2 linked regions of the Homo sapiens genome follow. The protein of the gene in region 2 purifies or fractionates together with the protein of the main gene of each other region. This does not show direct contact. Each region holds a gene or a part of one and is shown on either strand. Other genes may lie near its edges.

Region 1 (3,500 bases), on a different chromosome or scaffold from region 2:
CCACCATCCCACTCCATTTTTATAGCAGATGTATAGTCCGTTAGGAGATATGACTCTGCTATTTCTTTCCTTCCTGTGTGCCTTTCATAGTAGAAAATATCACTGGGTCCTATAAATCCAAATCAACTTTTAATCTGGCTTCACCAAAGAAACAGAAATCTATTGAATGTTGGGAAAATAGTTGTACTGAATTTACTGAAAGATGTTACATCATTCTCTAAAATGTCATGTGGTTTTAAGAAACTTTGAAGGTAATTTTGAATGTACATGACTCTTTTTATGTGACAACTTTAGAACTTTACCTCCCATATAAGATGTGACTCTACTTGAAGATAATGGACATTATTGATTGCTAATCCAGCATTTAGTACTTCCTTCCTTCTTCCTAACAAAACTCTATTTTATTCAGGTAGCACTCCTCATAACTAAAGGAAAGATGACCCTAGTACCAGTTCCAGGAGTAGAACTGGACTTGTATAGGCTTATCACATTGCTTCCACCCTCTTTGCTAGCACCTGGTTTTGGAGTACTCAAGTAATCCAATTCTGGCCTGTGGCACATGAGGAGAAGTCTATTAAAGGGCTTCTGTAAAGATTTCCTTGATTAGTATTATTATTTATTGTTATTATTTTTTGAGATGGAGTCTTGCACTGTCACCCAGGCTGGTGTGCAGTGGCACGATCTTTGCTCACTGCAACCTCTGCCTCCTGGGTTCAAGAGTGATTCTCCTGCCTCAGCCTCCCGAGTAGCTGGAATTACAGGCGCTTGTCACCATGCCCAGCTAGTTTTTTGTATTTTTAGTAGAGATAGGGTTTCATTACATTGGCCAGTCTGGTCTTGAACTCCTGACCTCTTGATCCACCCACCTTGGCCTCCCAAGATTTCCTTGATTCTTAGAAAGGAACAGAGCCAGTGATAGTTCATTTCATTCCTAAGCATGTTGTTAAGTTCAGTGTGACTCCAACAGCTATTGCCATCTTGCTGCCAGTCCTCTGAGGATGTCAGTATTGGGAGTGGAAGAGAGCAGAGAAAGATAAAACCTAGGTCTTTGAAGAGATTGCTCAGTTCCTGAATCAATGAACCCTGAAGTCTCTCCAATCTTCTCCTTAGATAATGTATTAGTCAACTCAGGCTACCATAACAAAATACCATAGACTGGGTGACTTAAACAACAGAAATTTCTCACAGTTCTGGAGGCTGAGAAGTCCAAGATCAAGGTGCTGGTAGATTTGGCTTAGCTGGGGCTATCTTCCTGGCTTGCAGACAGCTGCCTTCTTACTATGTCCTCACATGGTGTGTGCAAGCCGGGATAGAAAGAGAGAGCTTTCTCTTTTGCTCTTCTTTTAAGGTCATCAACCCCACAGGGTTAGGGCGCTACCTTTAGGACCTCATTTAATCTTAATTACCTCCTAAAAGTCCTATCTCTAAATACAACCATATTGGGATTAGGGCTTCAACCTATGTCTGTGGAGGAGACACAATTCAGTCCATAGCAGATAATATAACAAATGTCTTTATGCTATTAAACAAGTTTAAATTTTTTTTTCTGTTATAGACAACTTAATACACCCTGACAGATATCATATCTTATGATGAAATATACACAGGATAATGTCTAATTCATGGCATATAACATGAAAAGATCAAGGGTTAGTCTCCTTTTCTCAGAACAAAGCAGTTGTAGAGTTAAAAATAGTCCATTGAAGTTCTAAGGCATTTTATGAACTGCTGATTGTACATATATGTGGTATCATGTTAACATAAACAGTCCAGCCCTAAGGGAGTTTTAAGTTATAAAAGAAACATTTTTCTAAGATCATGAGCTCTGATATAAAAACCATACTCCAGCCCAGTTCTATCATTATGAAGGTCTGGCGAGCCAAGAGACATTAGTTGGTGATTTTATCAAGCCAGACTTCTAACTAATGGCTTGGTGAAGCCATTACTGTCCCATAAAACACTGTAACAGATTGACAGGACAATTCAAGAGTTTTAGTCATTTTACATCCTTAACGGTTATTCCACAAAAAGCAGCATTCTCAGGGATCACTGCAGTCCTACAAATGAGAATACACTTTCTTCACCTTTTTGCCTAAAAGGAATCAGTTATGTTTTTCTTACAATTCAAATCTAATTTTTATAACTATCTTCAACAAAAAGGGTGGAGTGTAGATTCACCACATTCTAGTGAAGCTCTCATAAAACATTTTACCCGTTACATTGTTTATAAAGTAAATTTACCATTTTTCCCCAGATAAAATGTAAATAAACAATAAAATTATATTGAAATGAAGGATTTTCATAACATAGTAAAATTCTCCTTTAATTTCTAGCCGAGGGAGTGGAAGAGCAGCACTTATCAAATTAAAAAAAAATACCCAAACCAAACAAACAAAAACAAACTTCACCAAGAAACAAATGAGAGATACATGTGCATATAGATGCATCCATATTAAAGCAATAGAACTTGGGCCATTTTGAAATCTTAAACCTTCTGACACTATTTTCATGAACTCAGTAATATAAACCATGTGGTGAATGAAATTCTGAAAAACTTTGCTGGTTTCACTGTGTATTTTATTACTGGCCAAATGTGACATTAAATTTTATCCCCTGTGGCTTGGAGTTAAATGCTTGCTCTGTTCAGAATGGCAACACTCAATTAAACAGCATTTTTCATGATCTACACCCACCATTGTTGCTGTATTTAAGGGAAATAATAGGGGTACTGACCTATATTGCGCTTCTTATTATCAATGGAGACGAAGCGTATGCAGGGATTACTGGTGATGTACTGCCCAGCCCAAGGGACATCAATCTTCGTACCAGCTTCATAAAAGAGGCCCAGAGCATATCGAGAGGAGTAGCTCACAGCCTCCAGTTGCTGCCTTTGGCATTCACTAATTACTGTGGAAGAAAAAATAAAAGGCATCAAACTTAAAAATACCATCTTTCCTTTTAGCACATCAAATATAAAATTCCTTTAAACCAGTTACAACAGCTTCCACCAACTCCATCTCACTTACAATGAATTTTGAAAGGTAATGTAAAATAGCACCAGCTCTAATTTCTTTTTGGAATAATTATTAACTTTGGCAAATTGTTTTTATCAAGCTGAAGGTCCACATTCTTTGGAATGGCGTTCAAGGTTCTCAAAATCTGGCTCCAAATTGCTTTTCTAGTCTGGTATCCCAGTCCTTGGACTGTCTGGCCACATTATAGATTCCATACACTGACCCCTTACTACAAGTTAGGGTATTTGCTATATACTTGACATAAGCATTTCACTCTATCATAACAACAGTTTTGAAAGGTAGAGTATTATTTCCAAGTTACAGATGAGGAGGCTGATGCTCCATCTGTTATGACCTCTTAAATTATTCCATGGATACAAGGGGGGAATAACACACACTGGGGTCTGTTGGGGATGGGGGCATTGGGGAGGGACAGCATCAGGATGAAGAGCTAATGGATGCTGGGCTTAATACCTAGGGGATGGG
Region 2 (3,500 bases):
ATTTATTTGTTATAAACAAATACCTAAAAGTTTGAATCTTATTCTAAATACAAAGGAAGTTATTAGAGAATTTTAAGTAGAAAAAAATTATTCTAAGATCTCAATGACTATATTTGGGAACTGGCAGTATCATCCATACTACAGTAATAATCTAGAGATTAGTACAGTAATTTCAAACAGGAACCCCTGGGTCCTTAAAAGTCCATGTAGATAATAATTGGGAGTCCATTAATTGACATTAAGATTTCAAAATGCTTCTTAAAAATTGTAGCTTTCGGCCAGGCACAGTGGCCTGTAATCCTAGCACTTTGGGAGGCCGAGGCGGGCAGATCACCTGAGGTCGGGAGCCCGAGACCAGCCTGACCAACATGGTGAAACTCCGTCTCTACTAAAAATACAAAAAAAAATTAGAGGGACATGGTGGCACATGCCTGTAATCCCAGCTATTCGGGAAGCTGAGGCAGGTGAATCGCTTGAACCTGGGAGGCGCTGGCTGCGGTGAGCCGAGATCACACCATTGCCCTCCAGCCTGGGCAACAACAGGGAAACTCTGTCTCAAAAAAAAAAAAAAAAAAAGTAGCTTTTCTGGAAAGGGAACTGTATAAACTAATTGATTTTCTCCCTTTCCTGGTGGCTGATTTTCTAATTACTTAATCGCTCCTCATGTGGTATAGTTATCCCTCAGTATCTGTGTGGGATTGGTTCCAAGACTCCCAGGATGCTCAAGCCCCTTACATAAAATCGTGTAGTACGTACAGATAACATACGCACATTCTCCCGTACACTTTAAGTCACCTCCTGGTTAGTTATAATACTCAGTACGATGCAAATTCCATGTAAATGGTTGTTATGCTGTATTGTTTAGGGAACAATAGCGAGAACAAAAAACACGTACATGCAACCACAATTTTTGGTTTTTATTTTTTTTGGAACACTGTATTTTCAATTTGATGATGGTTTAATCCACAGATGTGGAACCCACACACATGGAGGGCTGACTATACATGTGGTGTGTACTCGTCCTCTTGTTCTATGACATTTAGGATTAATTTTTTTTTAACAGATAAACTTAGTTTTTTTACTCAAAAACAATTTCAGGCCCCAAGGGTGGTAGTTAGAAATCATTCATCTCATTTAACCCTTTTCAAGACAGACGAGAACACTGATGCCTGCGGCTGTCATAAGTGACAGGCCAGGAATGGAATCTCAGCTTCTGACTGTGCATTCAGCTCTAACTGCTGTACTCACTGCCCTGCCAGCTATGGTTTCACAAGCATTCATACATTCCTTTAAAAAACTATAAACTCACCTAATGACAAATTATTTATGCTAAGAAATGATAAAACCCAGTAAGAAGAGCAAAGAGGTTTTTTAAAAAGTTAAAAGTGGTATATTTCATAGTAAAAGCCTTTATACAGTAACACCTTATCTTTAAAAATATTCATTGACAAAAGCAAAAATATCATTAAATATATAATCTTCTAAATCTAAATCTGTGATGAATGAATGAGGAAATGCATGCAAGAGAAATTACTAGTGCTGACCAAAGAAGAAACAAGCTAGGTCAGGTCATAAAGGCCTGCCCGATAGTGTCGCCTTTAATATCTTTCCCATATAGAGGAATAAGAAGATAATTTCACTTGACGATAAGGTTACCCATTTGGGATCTATATTCTGGTAGATTTTACAATCTGTATGATACAGCATATGTTACTAGGGAGACAGCAAATATAGTGGTTATGGGTATGGATGTTATGGGTATGGATGAATTATGTCAGACAGATCTTCAATCCAGGCTTCTTACTTATTATAGGAACTGAAGTAAAGTATTCATTCTCTAGACTCAGTTTCCTCCTGTGTACAAAAGAGAAAACAGGCCAGGCGTGGTGGCTCACGCCTGTAATCCCAGCACTTTGGGAGGCCAAGGTGGGTGGATCACAAGGTCAGGAGTTTTAGATAAGCGTGATCAACATGGTGAAACCCCATCTCTACTAAAAATACAAAAAGTAGCCAGGTGTGGTGGCGTGTGCCTGTAATCCCAGCTACTCAGGAGGCTGAGGCAGGAGAATCACTTGAACCCGGGAGGCGGAGATTGCAGTGAGGAGAGATAGCGCCACTGCGCTCCAGCCTGGGCGACAGAGTGAGACTCAGTCTTTTAAAAAAAAAAAAAAAAGAGAGAGAGAGAGAAAAGAATGCCTATTTCCTAAGGTTGTTGTCCAGACTGAATGAGGTACTGACTATAAAGAATTTAGCACAGTGGTTGGGTGGGGTGGCTCACAACTGTAATCCTAGCACTTTGGGAGGCCGAGGCAGGAGGATCACCTGAGGTCAGGAGTTCAAGACCAGCCTGGCCAACATGATGAAACTCCGTCTCTACCAAAAAATACAAAAATTAGCCAGGCATGGTGGCACGCACCTGTAGTCCCAGCTACTTGGGAGGCTGAGGCACGAGAATCACTTAAACCTGGGAGGCAGAGGTTGCAGTGAGCCGAGATCACGCTACTGCACTCCAGCCCGGGCAACAGAGCAAGACTGTGTCTGGGAAAAAACAAAAACAAAAACAAAAACAAACAACAACAACAACAAGAATTTAGCACAGTGTCTGGCATGTGGAAAGCACTCTATAAATGTTAGCTATTTTACTATTTCATCACAGATTCTTATAGGACAGTGGCCACCACTTACGTATGTACTCCAGAATCTGACACACTGTAAGCATTTAACATTAAATAATCCAAAATATAATAGCTAGTTATGGTTTTACCAAAAACAAAATTTAGGTCATTATTAAACAAAAATGCTAAGGATCAGGCATATGGCACGTTTCCTAAAGCATCCTGTATAGAACCATCTCTACCATTCAGTAAATTATAGAAGAGGAAATTGTTTTCTTCCGTATGAAGCTTTATGGAAATCATGACTAACAATGCATTGTATTCTAGATATTTACTTTTATTACTCTGAGAGTATCTGTGACCAACAGTGGAAATACAAGCAAAAGGATGTGCACAGGAATTTTAGGACAGTCTGTCTTAACACCTTAGCAGCAAACAGAACTTGTACTCCTCCAGCCTCCTTTCTCTCTCCCTGTCCCCTTTTCTTTCCCTTTCTCTCCTCCCTCAAAGACACTATGTCTCACCCTCTTCCCCTCCCTTGTCTTCCCAGTTGTCTATGCTGGTGTGTCCTGTATTAACAAAATGGGCCATAAGCCTGAGCCTTGGGGTTATCACAGAGAATTTAGCTTCACTCACTCTTGGGCCAATTTCACTATAAAGAGTTTTATTTCCAGTAGATTTCCAAAATTAAATGATCATTATACCACAGTGTCTTAGTCTGTTTTCGTGTTGCTATAAAGAAAATACCTGAGGCTGGGTAGTCTATAAAGAAATGGCGCAGCCAGGCATGGTGGCTCACTGCCTGTAATCCCAGCACTTTGGGAGGCCAAGGATGGGTGGACTGCTTGAGCTCAGGAGTTTGAGATCAGCTTAGGCAACATCTTT

What was found. The genes of interacting proteins can lie anywhere in the genome.
Region 1: the proteins of DENND5B (region 2) and RNLS purify together in Homo sapiens (pull-down; one study listed by IntAct). This does not show direct contact.

What each region holds. Positions count from the first base shown.
Region 1 is NC_000010.11:88,359,819-88,363,318, forward strand, and holds part of RNLS (renalase isoform 1 precursor), read right to left. Parts: intron 2,908-3,500; coding exon 2,734-2,907; intron 1-2,733. UniProt on the Homo sapiens protein: Catalyzes the oxidation of the less abundant 1,2-dihydro-beta-NAD(P) and 1,6-dihydro-beta-NAD(P) to form beta-NAD(P)(+). The enzyme hormone is secreted by the kidney, and circulates in blood and modulates cardiac function and systemic blood pressure.
Region 2 is NC_000012.12:31,581,137-31,584,636, forward strand, and holds part of DENND5B (DENN domain-containing protein 5B), read right to left. Parts: intron 1-3,500. UniProt on the Homo sapiens protein: Guanine nucleotide exchange factor (GEF) which may activate RAB39A and/or RAB39B. Promotes the exchange of GDP to GTP, converting inactive GDP-bound Rab proteins into their active GTP-bound form.